Linked DNA regions of Homo sapiens: region 1 is linked to region 2. A link means that fine-mapping ties the variant in region 2 to the expression of a gene that starts in the linked region. Tissue or cell type: putamen. Region 2 holds a variant in brackets; the other region holds the start of a gene. All regions are shown on one strand. Distances are between the middles of the regions.

Evidence for each region. PIP is the estimated chance that this variant, and not a neighbour inherited with it, causes the effect.
Region 1: it holds the start of ODF1, and the variant in region 2 is fine-mapped to the expression of ODF1 in putamen (GTEx, PIP above 0.99).

Annotation. Positions count from the first base shown.
Region 1 is chr8:102,547,234-102,555,336 of GRCh38, reverse strand. ODF1 (outer dense fiber of sperm tails 1) reads right to left here and starts at 3,748. Exons shown (of 2, transcript NM_024410.4): 1 at 3,290-3,748. The coding sequence starts at 3,609. LOC124901998 (a long non-coding RNA gene) reads right to left here. Exons shown (of 3, transcript XR_007061039.1): 2 at 5,528-5,639; 3 at 4,741-4,830. LOC105375684 (a long non-coding RNA gene) reads left to right here and starts at 4,709. Exons shown (of 2, transcript XR_928478.3): 1 at 4,709-4,794. RefSeq lists an enhancer at 1-16.
Region 2 is chr8:102,576,113-102,584,215 of GRCh38, reverse strand. No RefSeq gene overlaps it. Among named protein-coding and RNA genes, the nearest start is that of ODF1, 29 kb to the right of the region's middle. RefSeq lists an enhancer at 92-591. The variant C/T (reference allele first, on the strand shown) is at 4,597.

The DNA of each region.
Region 1 (8,103 bases), 29 kb after region 2:
GAATTAGATCATAAACTCCTAGGGCAAGATTGAGGAGGGCCTGGGTTTTGTTTCTCCGGCTCTAAGACAGAGGGCAGGGAAGCCCATGAAATGTGGTGGTGAATCAGTTACAACTTAAATCAGGCTGGTGGCATGGCTTCCGACAAAGGAAACCAATGCAGTCCCCTCAGCCCCTCTAAATCCAGAAGAGGGAGGAAGAGACAGGGACACTGCCTGCCTCTTGGGGAGGAAAAGAGGATATCAAAGAAGCTACAGAAACAAAGGTGCTTACTTGGGTCTCTACTAAGGAAGACACTGCCAACATGGTGTCTTCTGAAGCAGCTGCCCAATAAAGAATGGAAATGGATTGGATTTTCTTTTATTTATTTATTTATTTTTTGAAACAGGGTCTCTTTCTATTGTCCAGGCTGGAGTGTAGTGGCATAATCATGGCTTACCGCAGTCCTGACCTCCCAGGCTCAAGCAGTCCTCCCACCTCAGCCTCCTGAGTACCTGGGACCACAAGCATGTGCCACCACACTTGGTTAATTTTTTTATTTTAATTTTTATAGAGATGGGGACTCCCTGTGTTGCTCAGGCTGGTCCCAAACTCCCGGACTTGAGCAATTCTCCTATTACAGCCTCCCAAAGTGCTGAGATTACAGGTGTGAACCACTGCACCCAGCTTGGATTGGATTTTCTATGCCCAGTCTAAGAAAACACCACACACATGCATCAATCAAATAACATATAGTCAGGAGTGCTCAAGAAACCTGTGGGATCAATTAAGAAATTGTTGGTTGAGGCTTTTTACCAGTTATTAAAGGAGGACCCAGAGACACAGCAGATTGACTGTGACACAGAAAAACAGTTTCAAGGGGGCCAAGGCAACTATAGACTATAGAGTCTTTACTTCATATTGGGCAAAGAACCTTCTGGACAACACAGCCTGCCATCTGAAAGGATATGTCATAACTAACCAACCCCCTTGCATTCTTTAAAGGGGAGGAAGGTCATGTGAATATGAATTCTAAACTCAAAAAGCCTTGGGCAAGCTTTCACACCAAAGATTGTTTTAAAAAATTGAATCAACATGATATTTCTGCATCTATTTAGTTATGGATCAGGCGCTAGCTTAGAGATAAGAATAAAAGGCACTGCACTAGAAGAAAAAATACTACACTGGGGGCCTTCTGGGACTGAGGCTAGAATCAGGGTTTAACATTTTCACCCATATTCAGGAAAATTGAATATTTAGGTTTGCAAGTGACACTAAGCCCTTCTGGAGAGTGAAATGTCAAGTTGTCAGAAATAGAGCATAGAAATTTCACAAGGTGGTGTGAATTGGAAGAGATAAAGCGGACAAGCCTGAGGTCATTTCTACAATGGACTTGGAGTTATCATTTCCGAGATCCAGAAATTAATGTAAAGACATCACCAGCTTCACATATTGCCTGCAGGCAGAGAAAAAATAGGCAAAGACCCAGACGCTGTCAGGAAGAGCATCACAAACCAGAGAAAACATTACCTCTTGCCTAAACTACACTGCCGAGAATTAAGCTTGAAGCTGTTTCTACTGCATGCCAAGAAACAAGGCTTCTGAAAGAGGCATCAAGAGAGTAGACAGCACAGGACAGAGAGGGATTTTAATTGGTAGAGTCTGGGGATAGGAGAGAAGCCAGGAAGACAGAGGCTGGAAAGACCTGGACAAGGGTATTCAAGTATCCAAAAGTAGGAGGAGAGTGGATACTGATCTGCTCACAAGGAAACCTTAACTTGGACCAAATATTTTAAAAAGAGTCCCTGCCTCACAGTGTGAGCAATTTATGTGACTTGATGCCCTAAGAAATAAAAACAAACATTGGTTCAAAGAGTATAGATGAATTTACAGGTGAAAGCTCCCAGGCTATGAGGGAGGTTCATTCCTGACCATTGGTGGCTGGTGACCTAGACAATAATTATCCTTTTTTTTTTTTTTTTTTTGAGACAGTCTCACTTTGTCACCCGGTCTGGAGTGTAGTGGTGCAATCTTGGCTCACTGCAACCTCTGCCTCCTGGGTTCAAGTGATTCTCCTGCCTCAGTCTCACGAGTAGCTGGGATTACAGGCACGTGCCACTACGCTTGGCTAATTTTTTTTTTTTTTTTTTTTTGTATTTAGTAGAGATGGGGTTTCACCATGTTAGCCAGGCTGGTCTCGAACTCTTGAGCTCAGGTGATCTGCCCGCCTCCGCCTCCCAAAGTGCTGGGATTACTGGCATGAGCCAATGCACCCGGCCTCCTATTGCTTTTTCCAAAGAAACATCACTGTCACTGTTGTCAAGAGACTCTATCTATCTATCATCTATCTATCTATCTATCTATCTATCTATCTATCTATCTGTCATCTGTCTATCAGTTTTTCTGCACTTTGCTTGTTTGACTTAATACATCAATATGTAAGATGCTTCATCAATCCTTTCTATATTTACTTATTATTCCAGTGCATGAATGTATTATTTATTTAACCAGGGACAGCACTTTCAACCATCTTTTTCATCAACAGTAACAGACTAAATGGCATATGTAAAAAGTTAGAAAAGGAAAGTTTTCTCCAGGCAAAAAGAAAATATAATCTAAAACAAAAATTTTTTTAAAAAACTGACTCTTTTTAATTACCCAATTCAATTAAAAAGCCTTTCAAGTCTATCCTGAAAGCTACAACTCAGTGCCATAGTTTATTTGCAAGACCTTTGCTAGAGTTAGAGGGGAGGCCAACATGATAGACCTAATTCCAGATACAAGGTAAGTCTTTGCCTGGAGTGGGGGGATAGGAGAATGATATTCCCACAAAACCAAGGCAATGCCTCTACTGTTCAATTTGCTCTCCTGCTTGTAAAGCCTCTGGCACACATTAAGGATTTGATCTATTATTATTACTTCTCCTGTAGTCATTTCTGTAAGTCCAAATATACTCAAATCACTTTACTCATAACCAGGAAAAATGTTTAGTTTGCTGCTTCCAATGGCTTTTTAATGACACCCCCTGTTTCTTCCCTTCATTAAAGCCGCATTATTTATCATACTGGCATTCTTGCTATAAACCACCGACGACCTTGCCAATCGACATCATTACATTGTCTTTTGAGAACCCTACAATTCCCATCATGGACTCATTTACTCTTCTTTCCTTAAATCTTTCCTAAGTCACCAGGGTCATTATCCTGAACCCTTTTAATCTTTGTTCAACTATTGATTGTCACATATTTTTCCTTATTCCAACTTATAAGGCTAATATACCGACTATAAAAATTTAAAAATAAGTTATTTTACTTGGCAAGCTCTCGCTTCTCATCTTCTATGGCTCTGATGGCTTTCCTCTCCAAACTTCTGAGAGATGGTCGCAGACAGTAAAGCTTATAATCACACAGGCAACATGGGTAGAGATCACACAGGCCGCAAGAGCGTGATCGCTTGGAATAGCACAAGCAGTACGGATATGGGTGCAAGTCACAGCAGCAATAGGGGTGCATATACAAGTCGCACAGGCACCGTGTGCTAAATTCGTCGATGCATCTCAGTTGCCTTAGTTCTCTGTCCACCTTCTTTATGTCCCTTCTGACACTGTCCAAGAGACAACTCAGTGCAGCCATTATGGTCACACCTGATTGTTCTGTGAGTACCTTTGGGAAATGGCACTCCGGGAAAAAATTTGTTCTAAGCCCTTCTCAGAAGTTGCTTTTAAAAATAAATGAGGCACACATGATTCACTTACTTTAAAGCTTGTGTTCTATGACCTCACCACCTTCTGAAGTATGTCATAGTCTTCTGGTTACCATGTGAACTGTACACAGTCATGGTCTCCAGAGACCATCCTCAGAGTTACAGAGCTACTCTCAGAACCATACTCGTGTTGAGATTTCACTCACCTTCAAGGAGGATGGGTCTCCCAAGCGAGCATAGCTCATCGGGGTGCATGGGGCTGGCCACTAACATCCTTGCCTTGTGTGTGCTCTGGGGACCAGCCATGGCTATGACTGTGTGTTTGTTGAACTTGGTGCAGGCGAAGGCAGGAGCTGCCCACGCCTTTCTCCATGACCTTCTAGCTCTAGCCTTGATTGGAAGCTTGGCCTTGCTCCTTTTGTTCTAGAATTCATTCTGTCTCCAGACAGGTAGAATATAAAGAATGTTCTCATCATTCTCCTCCTACCAAGTCATCCTCAAGTCAGCCATTGTCCTTGACCTTCTGAGTTACAAGTCTCTGAGTCCTGCCCATTCTGCGCCAGCTGTGGTCATGGCTGTTCGGGAACCTCATTTCTCTACTGGTTGGGGGTCCTGTCCTTAAGCTCCCATCTGTCAGTCCTCGGGGGCCTGTCCTGGGGAACTACCTCCCATCAACTACACCTTTGGTCTTGCATCCAAGCCTCCGGATGTCTTGTCCCTGAGTGCTTCCCAAATGTTGGTCTTTGATGTTCTTGTAGCCAACCGCCTGAAGATGCTGGAAGCCAACTGCCTGAAACCCCCGCTTCGGCCAGTTTCCTTTACTTTCTGTTCAGTTAACATCCTAGACCTCTGATTCGGCCTCAGATTTGGCTCTCGGTGCCTCTACTCCTCTGGTCCTTTCACCTCAAACTGCGGTCCAGCTCTCGAGTCTCCCTTGTATGAACTAGAGCTCAGGTATTGATGACAAGTGGTTGGATGTGACACTGGTGAGGGAGACAAGGGCCAGGTTTGAAGGGACCTGTAGCCAGACTAAGGACTCTGAACTTTATTTTGAGCCCAACGAAGGATTGTTGATTTTCTTTTCTTTTGTCAGAAGTGAGACAGCCACACTGAAGGTAAGTTGCTAGGGACAATAGTAGTGGGGTTTTCTGCTGCAAGACAAGAAGAGACAACAAAAATCTGGACTGGGGATCATGGCTATGGGGATGGCAAGGAGGAAGCCAATGGGAAAGCCTTCCCCCACCTCTGCCCAGGCCCCATCTAATCCATTTTCCACATTGTAGCCACAGCGACTTTCATATAGAAATCTGTCATTCCTCAACCTTCCCCACCCATCATCCCACTCACCTTAAAAGTCTTCTCTGTCCTCTCAAAAAAAGGACCAAAATCTTTACCAGGTGCTGAGCAATGGGGCCTCTCCCACTTCCCCACTCTCCTCTCCCATCCTAGTATTATTGCAATTCATTACCCCTCAGCCACGATGGCCTTCCTGGAAGACCACTCACTTTCCAGAGGCCGTTCCTTAGTCCCTTGAAGGACATTCCTCATTCCTTCCACCTCATTCAGAGCTCATACACAGGACGTTCTGCCTGCTTAGAAATTGAACTCCCCACCTATGACTTTCATCCATTTAATTCTTAAGGCACCCTTTAGATCTCCCCCTTTCTTGGGGAAGCCTTCTCTGTCTCCCAGACTAAACACTCTCTTAACTTAGGATACATTTCCTTCATGATATTGTTTCCCCAGCTGGACTGTAAGCCACGAGGGCAAGGACCTTGTCTATTTTTGCTTCGCAGTAGATACCTAACACAATGCCTGGCACATAGCAGGTGCTTGAAATGTACTCACTGAATGACCATCTGGGTGAATTCAACAGGATTTAGTGAACAGAGTGAGGATGGAGTGAGGGAGGAATCAGTGGTGACTTCCAGCTTTCAAGCTTGGCAGACTCTTGGTGCCACTGAGATAAAAATAACACAGGGAGAAGAGTAAGTTTGGGGATTTGGTGAACAGGTGGTGCTGGTGACAACTTTAAGGTAGAAATCTGGAGTATTCTGTGGATAAGAGGGTCTGGAATTTGAGGAAAGCCTGGGCTAGAGATATAAATTAGGAAGCCACAATTCCATAGGTAGTTGGAACCCTGGAAACAGGCAAGATAATTCAGAATTTAAAAAGAGAGCTGAAGCCGACTCCCAGGGAAAAATAAGTAGAAATGAGGAGAGTGAAGGAGTCCATGAAAGGCTCATAGAAGGAGTAACAGAGGGCGACAGCCCCCTCAGCTGGAGTCCCTTGGGAGTCACTAGACCAAGCATGGCATTCCCAATGGCTCGATGTTCCCCAGCCTTGACTTAGGAGGCCCTTTTCTGTGCAGATAATGTGTCTTAGCAAACAAGTGTCCCTAGAGGCATTAGAATGAGAGGCTGGCCCCTTGAGTCACGTGGAATGAGTCAAAAAGCAAAGCTGAATGATTCTCCTCTATGGACAAATTCTGACCTCTTTAAAAGTGATTCCACTGTGATTTGATTCTGAGGGGTGGACCCTATTAATAGAAATATGGCCTACTCTTTCCTGAGAGTTAATTGCAGGAGTTGTACAGATTTCTCTAGCTCCAGGTGACAGAGAATTCTTATATCACCTTGAATTCTATCCCTTAGCAAATGTCAGCAAAGATTGAAGCAGGCAAGCTCTCAGTTTAATATTATTATATACACAAGTTCAGGTGCCTAAATACACACATCTGTGTATACATGGTACATTATTAAGATGGGTATAGCTATATTTCAACTAGGATTCTCCCATTATCCCACCTTCCTAGTGATTTTTCTTTTTTTATTTTGAGACAGGGTCTTACTCTGTCACCCAGGCTGGAGCACAGTGGCATGTGCTCTCTGCAGCCTTGACCTCCTGAGCTCAGGTGAGCCTCCCACCTCAGCCTCCCCAGTAGCTGGGGCTATAGCCATGCACTACCATGCCTGCCTAACTTTTGTATTTTTTGTAGAAATGGGGTCTCACCATGTTGCCCAGCCTGGTCTCAAACTCCTGGGCTCAAGCCATCTGCTCACCTTGGCCTCCCAAAGTGCTGGGATTACAGGCATGAGTCACCACTCCTGTCCCTTCCTAGTGATTTTACTCTTCATCATGAAGTATATTCTTATCATTTTAAGTGACTAAATAAAGGTAGTGTCTTCTTTAATGATGAGATGGAAATGTGATCTATTCATATCAGAAGGATTTTAATATGGATTCTAATATGGAACTAGGACCTTCCGTATGCAGGACTATGTCCATGGAATCTCTCATTCACCTTGGCTGGTGTCCGGATAGAACCTCCTCTGGATGGAAGGCAGGTCTTGACACTTTCCCAAGTTGGGCAACACTTGCTTGGTCCCCAATGTTGGTGAAATCATGAGCCAAAGAAGGTCCCCTCTGCCTCTTCCAGCAGGTAGCACAGCTACAGCTCAAGTCTCGTCACCAGACCAATGTTACAAAGACACTTTTCTAACAGTTGTTAGGTCAGTACACAGTGCTTAAACATCAAATATGAAAGTATACACACAGTGTGACCTGAACTCTGTAAAAAAGAATCCATAGGCTAGGTGTGGTGGCTCACACCTGTAATTCCAGCACTTTGGGAGACCGAGGTGGGGAGAATCACTTGAGGCCAGGAGTTTGGGACCAGCTTGGGCAACATAGTGAGACCCCATCTTCTACAAAAATATTTAAAAATTAGCCAGGTATGGTGGCACATGCCTATGGTCCCAGCTACTCAGGAAAATGAGGAGGGAGGATCATTTGAGCCCAGAGGCTCTAGGCTACATTGAGTTATGATTGCACCTCTGCACTCCAGCCTGGGCAATAGGGTGAGACCCTGTCACAAAAAAAAAAAAAAAAAAAAGGAGAGAAACACCCTGAAAAATTAGCTGTGGTTAACTCTGGCTAGTAGAATCATAGATGGCTTTTAAAATTATTTTTTCTAGACTTTTCTGTGATTTCCAAATTTCTTCTATGAGGATATCACCAGTTTTATAATGAAACACTTTCTGATATTGTACTCTCAAGAAATCAGCTGTGTACTGAATCGCTAAGCCCACCTTTGGCCCCTGCCATCCCCCTAAGCAGGCCATTGGGGAAGTCTCCCTGGAATGGACATCTGGAATTTGGTCTGTCCATCATCCATGGCATCTTCTTTTGGTAAAATAACTTTCTCCGCTCCCCACTCCCACCCTCCACCATTAAGTGCTGCCAGTAAGTTGCCTAGCCAAAGGGCAGGCATGAAACCAAAGCTGGCTGATCTGACTGTCTTCTGGGAATTTGATCTTTAGCAGAGAGACATAAAGCCTGAAGACAGTTGGAGCTGATTCATTCTGACAGTGCACCCTAGGAGACTACACCTTAGTTACTGCCCTGTTCCATAATTTTCAAGT
Region 2 (8,103 bases):
AAGCCCATTGGCTCAATAACATTTTTACTTTGCAATTCTTAGCTCAGGCCCAGTCCCAGAGATTGAAGCCTACAAGGAGCTGAGACACGGTGGGAGCAGGGAGGGAGGAGAAGGTGATCCAGGGACTTACCAGGATATGATATATCATCGTAGGTATGACTGAGTACATGCCTACTTTTGTCTGTGGAGGTTGACAGAATTATTTTATTTCATGCTCTCAAAACACAGCAAGACCACATCCTTTGCTATAGTTAAGAAAAGGAAGCCTCAGAGATGTTTGTTATTCATCCAAGGAGCAAGAAAATCTTTTTTTAGCCCCCTTTATAAACATATTTCCCAATTTTAAATATATATGTATTTTTAAGTGAATGAGAAGCAAAGAACTGGAGCATGTGGGGACTTCCTGTGGAGTTTTACTGAGAACTGTGGCTGAATGCAGCAAGGGGTTGAGGAAGGATTTGTCTTGTTTTGGTTTTGCTTGGTAAAGGAAGGAAGCATCAGGTTTTCATGCTGCTGGGAATGATCTAACAGAGAGAGAGAGCGAAAATGATGAGACAGGAGAGGGAGGGCAGTCTTAGGGCCTGTAGCTCTGGGAGAAGCAGAGGAGACAGAACAGAGGCCTTGGCAAGGCTGAGGGCATCAGGGGCCCCTTCATGTGAAGCCAGTGGAATGCAGGGGCTTGCAGGAAGCCAGCTTTTTCTTCCTCCCCACTGCCTTTTCACCCATGGTGTGGGCTGCTTCCTCTCTGGCTGAGTGAGGTCTTTTTTTTTTTTTTTTGAGACAGAGTCTTGCCGTGTCACCCAGGCTGGAGTGCAGTGGTGCAATCTCAGCTTACTGCAAGCTCCGCCTCCCGGGTTCACGCCATTCTCCTGCCTCAGCCTCCCGAGTAGCTGGGACTACAGGCGCCCACCACCATGCCCGGCTAATTTTTTGTATTTTTAGTAGAGACGGGGTTTCACCGTGTTAGCCACGTTGGTCTTGATCTCCTGACTTCGTGATCTGCCCGCCTTGGCCTCCCAAAGTGCTGGGATTACAGGCGTGAGCCACTGTGCCTGGCCCTGCCTCCCAGGTTCTAAGTGACAGCACCATGCCCGGCTAATTTTGTATTTTTAGTAGAGACAGGGTTTTACCATGTTGGCCAGACTGGTCTCGAACTCCTGACCTCAGGTGATCCACTCACCTCGGCCTCCCAAAGTGCTGGGATTACAGGCGTGAGCCACCGCACCGAGCCTTGTCCGTATGAGGTCTAGGGCAGATTCTACAGCTTTTCAGCTTATTTTGGGTAAAAACAAACAAACAAACAAACAAACAAAAAAGTCCAGTCCAGACTGACAAGGAAATCCCGAATCCTGGTTCAATTTGAAAGCTCTTCCCTCCTCAGCTTGGAACGGCCTTGTACACAGTGAAAGAGGAAATGTGGCTACCTCTCTCTCTCCCTTCGCTCCCCTCTCCCATCCACTAGCTGCTGGCTTGGGGTTGTGCGGGTGGAAGGGAGGTGGCTGACGGGCAGGAAAGGCGTTTCTTGAATCCCTACAGTCCTTACTTGGCATGGGGCAGATGCACCATCCCTGATTCTTCAAGAACCATTTGGGTGAGTGCTTCAGAGCCTCCCATCGCTGGGCATTGGCCCCCAGTTTCTTGCTCACAATCATACAAGTCAAGTGTGAGCCATGGGCCAGCAGCATTGCATCACTTGTTGGAATAGAGATGCCAGGTGCGGCGACATGTACCTGTAGTCCCAGCTACTGGGGAGGCTGAGGCAGAAGGATAGCTTGAGCCTAGAGTTCAAGACCAGTCTGGATGACATAGCAAGACCCTATCTCAAAATAAAAACAGCAAAGAAATGGAGACTCTTAGGCTCACCCACCCCTGTTGAGTGAGGATCTGCATTTCCACAAGCCCCCCAGGAGTGTGACGCACAGTCAGGTCTAAAGCTCTGCCTCACACTCCCAGAGCCAGAGCCTTACAGTCACACACAGGCAACTCAACTTACATAGCTCTGCATACAATGGAATAAAATAGAACCTTGTGAAAGACAGTGATAGTTAACATCCAGGCCGTGCAGCTCCCTAAGAAGACAGAGTCACCAAAAGGCAAAGGGCAAGTAAGGCTGACATCTGGAAGCCCAGGCCAGCCAGCAGCCCGCCTGCATCTTGAAGGGGTAAGATAGAAAAATATTTTTACATATTATATAATATTTTATTTAAAAAGTTGTAAAAAATACATAAATATAAAAAAGATAGTGATATTGACTGGGGGCTGGTGGCTCATGCCTGTAATCCCAACACTTTGGGAGGTGAGGTTGGAGGATCGTTTGAATCGAGAAGTTCAAGACCAACCTGGGCAGCATAGCGAGACCTCTTCTCTACAAAAAAAATACAACAGTTAGTGGGCGTGGTGGCACGTGCCTGTAGTCCCAGCTACTTGGGAGGTCGAGGTGGGAGAAACACTTGAGTGTCCCTCTTCACTGGGTCAAACAGCTCCAGAAAGCTCTTTCACCCATGTCCCTTTCAAGGGCCCCCAAATCCAGCCTCCTCCTGCCAGTGTCCACCTGGATCCTGGGAAACAGGCTTGCCCCTTGCCCTCTCACTCTCATCAGGCTCTGCTGCCTGACGGAGTCACCCCGAGGCAGAACCTCTCCCTTTTAGAGTTTCCCAGGGAGACAGGTACCAGCCCTGTTCCTCCAAACCTCAGGGAACACACTTCAGATACTCTATGTGTTCTCTCAACACTTCCCGCACTAGTTGAGGTGATGTGGAAGCACTCCTTCCAGCCCAGTGGGGTGTGGGATGGGTGAGATGGGGCAGGAGTAGCCTGGCTCAGCAGACCCACATCTCTTTTCAAAGAAATCCTTACTACTGGCTGCTTCTATGGCCCAGGGAAGCCATAGCCTTCTCATGCCTCAGCCATAGAGGATGAGACGATTTCACAGCCTCTCAGAGTCTTGCCTAGGTGCTTGTTTTGGTTATTGATTGCTGTGTACCAAACTACCCCAGTCTCAGTGCTTAAAACAACAAACATTTACAGCTGGGTATGGTGGCGCCTGCCTGAAGTGCCAGCTATTTGGGAAGCTGAGGTGGGAGGATCACTTGAGCCCAGGGTTTCGAGGCTAGCCTGGGCAACATAGCCAGACCCTGTCTCTTAAAAAAAAAAAAAATTAACATAAAAATGGCAAACTTGTATTATCTCTCAGTTCCTGTGTGCTATGAACTGAATTGTGCCCCCTCCCAGATTCCTATACTAAAGCCCTAACCCTCCAGAACCTTAGAAAGTGATTGTATTTGGGGATTCTGCCTTGAAAGAGGTGATTAAGGTTAAATCAGGTCATAAGGGTAGGCCTCTAATCCAATAGGACTGGTGTCCTTATAAGAAGATAAGGAGACATCAGGAATGCGCATGGAGAAAAGCCCACATGAGGACACAGCAAGAAGACAGCCACCCGCCAGCCAAGCAGAGAGGCCCCAGGAGACACCAAACTCCCTGACACCTTCATCTTGGAACCCAGCCTACAGAACTGTGAGAAAACAGCCAGGCACGGTGGCTCATGCCTGTAATCCCAGCACTTTGGGAGGCCAAGCTGGGTGGATCATGAGGTCAGGAGTTCAAGACCGGCCTGGCCAAGATGGTGAAACCCCGTCTCTACTAAAAATACAAAAATTAGCCAGGCGTGGTGGTGGGTGCTTGTAATCCCAGCTACACTGGAGGCTTAGGCAGAGAATTGCTTGAACCCGGGAGGCAGAGGTTGCAGTGAGCCGAGATCACGCCACTGCACTCCAGCCAGGGCAACAGAGCAAGACTCCGTCTCAAAAAAAAAAAAAAATGTACTGTGAGAAAATAAAGGTCTGGCACTTTGGGAGGCCAAGGCAGGTGGATTGCTTCAGAATAAGAGTTTGAGATCAGCCTGACCAACATGGTGAAACCCCATCTCTACTAAAAATACAAAAAATTAGCTGGGCATGGTGGCGTGCACCTGTAGTCCCAGCTACCTGGGAGGTTGAGGCAGGAGAATTGCTTTAACCCAGGAGGCAGAGGTTGCAGTGAGCCAAGATCACACCACTTCACTCTAGCCTGGGTGACAGAGCCAGACTGTCTCAAAAAGAAAAGAAAAGAAAAGAAATGTCTTTTGTTTAAGCCACCAAGTCTGTGGTATTTTGTTATGGCAGCCCTAGCAAAGGAATACACTGTGGGGCAGCAAAGCAATCCAGGCACAGCTGATCTGGGCACCTTAGGCTCAGGCTCTCCCAAAGCTGCAATCGCAATGTCTCCTGGGCTGCAATCATCTCAAGGCTCCATGGGGAAAGGATCTTCTTCCAAGCTCTCTCTCGTGGCTGTGGGCAGGCCTCAGGTCCTCACTGACTGTTGGCTGGAGACATCAGCCCTTTGCCATGTGGGCATCTCCATAGGGCAGTTCACAGCATGGCAGCCAGCTGCTCTTGGGGAGAGTGAGGAGTGGGGTGAGGGGGGTCCTAACAGAAGCACAGTCTTTTTATAACCTAATCTCATAGTGGCATCCATCACTTTTGCAATATGCTGTTTATTAGAAGTGAATCAGGCCGGCGAGGTGGCTCACGCCTGTAATCCCAGCACTTTGGGAGG[C/T]CTAGGTAGGTGGATCTCAAGGTCAGGAGTTCGAGACCAGCCTGGCGAATATGGTGAAACCCCATCTCTACAAAAAACACAAAAATTAGCCAGGTGTGGTGGTGGTGGGTGCCTGTAGTCCCAGCTACTTGGGAGGCTAAGGCAAGAGAATTGCTTGAACCCAGGAGGTGGAGGTTGCAGTGAGTCAAGATAGTACCACTGCACTCCAGCCTGGATAACAGAGTGAGACTCCATCTCAAAAAAAAAAAAAAAAAAAAGAAGTGAGTCATGAACCCAGCCCATACTCAAGGGCGGGAAATCACACAAATGCATGAATACCAGGAGGGGAGGAGCACTGGGAGCTGTCTCAGGGGCTGCCTACTGCGGTGGCCCCGCACTCCACTTCAGGGGTACTTAGCACCTATGGCATTTTTTTGTGACAGGAGAGAAGACAGAGAGTGTGGGTACATATCCTGGTGGATTTGGTGGCAGGAGGATAAGAAAATGTCTGAGTGGTTCTACCTTCTAGTAAAGTGTGAAGTGTGGTCTTTGGCTAGAACTGGGGATCATGGAGGGACTGACAAAGATGGCCGGTGGGACAGCAAAGACTCCTGTTCCCTCACATTCCCCTCGTACATTACAGAGTTGCCCAGCCGGGAACTATGTTTCCCACACTCCCCAGTGTTGAGGTGGGACCATGTGACTAGTTCTTGCCCACAGACTGGGAGTAGAGCAATTTGTGGCATTTCCTGGCTAGGGAACTAAGAAGCAGGTATGTCTTTTTCTGTCTTCTCTTTATTATACCAAACTCCTGGGTACAGAGAATTCAAGGATCTTGGAGGGAAGGGCCACAAAATAAAAGGCCCCTGGGCCCCTGAAAGCCACCTGCCAACCAAGAATACCTGTGCTGGACTTTTTATGTGAGCAAGAATCAAACATTTATTTTTCAAGCCACGGGAAATTTGGGATTTGATTGGTGCAACAGATAGTATTTTCCTAATAAATCCAGGATTGTAGGTTTGAGGCTTGAGAAGCCATGTGAAATGCCTGATGAGTAGGCATAGAGGGAGCACATGCCAATCATGGAACAGCCCACCCTCTGAAGAGCCTCACTGGCCTGGACAGGACACCAGACAAGGGCGACCCACTGCATGTAGCTCCATAGCCAGAGATGGGTAGATGAGGGCAGAGCTGCACACAATGGGTGCAGGCCAAAAGACTTCTTACCCCAAGACCCTTAAACGACCCTAAGAGGAGCATGCCTTGACAAATGCCTGAAATTGGACTTCCCACCGCACACACACAGAACAAGTTTGAAATGGCTGTGGCTTGTACTCCATAAATGCCAATCAAATTTAGTCTCCAAGCCTCCACCCTTCCAAGTTGGTGGGAGGTCAGTTCCAAGCATTATTGGTGCTCCCTCTGCCTCCTCAATGTTGCATGGTACCCAGGAGGCCAACACAGTGCCCCAAATGAGGAAAGGCCTATAATCTTCAATTCAGGAGGAGCAATCAGGGTCCTCTGCAGTCCTGCTATATACTCTGGACCATGTTAAGAACAGGGTCAGGTCCTCTACCTACTTGAGGAAGCCACCAGCCTCAGGAATCTCCCTCTACCCCTTTCTATGGCCCAGGATCCTCTTTGTCCCTCTCAATCACCACCCTTTTCCCCTTGAGCAATTCATACTTCTGAAAAAGCCAGAAGGGCAGGTATATGAGGACGGCTTCTGCTTTCTACTTCAGCAACACAAACCTCCCCGGAGGCAGAGGGTGAGGGTTGTGAAATTCAGGGAGAGCCAAACACAAATGACTATCTCACTGATCCTGTTCCAGGGATAATAATAGCATCAACCTCTGAGGGCTACTGTAAGGATGAGAAAAGAGAAAGCATGCCACACTGACAGTTTCGGCCTGGCATAGAGCTAGTTCTTGGTCATGGTTACCCGTGGAAAACCTTTTCAAGTGGATGACCTTTGTCCTTCCATGTTTCTTCCATCACAAGAAAGAAGTTTCGGGAAAGTTTCAGGCAAGTCCTAGAAAAATTTAAAATTCCTTCCAGTTAGTTACTGTCCTCACCCAATGAAGAAGTGCCACTTAGGGCATGGTGTCTTATGCCTGTAATCCCAGCACTTTGAGAGGCTGAGAAGAGAGGACCTCTTGAGGCCAGGAGGTCGGGGCTGCAGAGAGCTGTGATCACGCCACTGCAATCCAGGTGTGGACGACAGAACGAGACCTTGTCTCAAAACAAACAAACAAACAAACAAAAAACCCCAACCCCCGCACTCCTCACCCCCCTAAAAAAAAACCCAGCGCCACCACCACTCCATGAGAGATGTCATCCAGGAGCAGACATTAGGCTTAGTTTATAAACACTTGGCAAAACTGTGGCGGCCGTAAGGAAGCATCCCTCTCCTCCAACTGCAGGGAGCGGCATTGACCCACTACCCCAGCTGCCCTGCCGAAATCCCTCGCCTGTTCACACCGACGCCATGCCTCCCATAGGCTACTTCCGGCCAATGACAGGGCTCGGCAGGGGTTTGGGAGCGGGCCTATTGTTGGGGGCGTGGCCCCCTCTGACAGGTGTCTGGCTGGAGAACTCCCTGACAGCCGCGCCAACCCTGCCCTAGGCTGCGGGGCCTGCCTTTCCTCCCTCTGTCCTTCACTGGGCATCAGATCTGGCCTGGAGCCACGCTCTCTCAGCGTGTCTTCTGGCTCCCTCCCAGGCTTCTCTCACAGATGTTTCTCCTAATTTCTTGCCTATTTCGTCTTGTCTTGCATCTGCTTCTGGGAAGACCCGGCCAACTCTGCCCTTTCAATGGGCTCATTTTTCATAGCTTGTCATTTAGATAGCAAATATTAGTTCAACTCACTTCCTGTATTTAAGCTGTGAAATGCAACATATAAGGATAAATGTTTTAAGTATAACTGTTAAGACTTCTCCCTAACGGAAAGCGTTAACTCTTGTTTTAACTGCAGTGTAACTTTTTTTTCCCCTGAATCTGGCACCTGCTACCATTCAGGCTGAGCTTTTAAACTCTCAAGTGGCTGTTGAGTTCCGTTATGGCTCTTAATTCTCCCTAGAAACTCTGAACTACTTAGGAACAAAACAGCAGTGGCATTAAAAAAAATACATCAGCAATGTAATGACATTAAAAGGAATCTGGAAGATACAGGAAGATAATTCCCATAATACCATTGTTCTAACACAACAGCTGCCATTTCGGGGGCGCATTCATGTCCATCCCCTCTCACTTCCTGCTCTTTCCAGAACCCCTTTTTTTCTAGAGGGTTATTTGCAGACCTGCCTGTGTTAGGCATGGGCCACCAGCTCTCAGCCCTAGACGCACATCAGAATCACTTAAAAATCACTGAGGGCTGGCCCTGAGCTGGATCTTCTCTAAACTGCATCTTTTCTTCCTTTTTAGAGTCCAGATGCAGAATTGACTTGATCAGACCTGTCAGTACATAGCACCTTACCATCACCAGTGCATTCCTAGTGCCCATCTTTTTATTTTATGTATTATTTTTG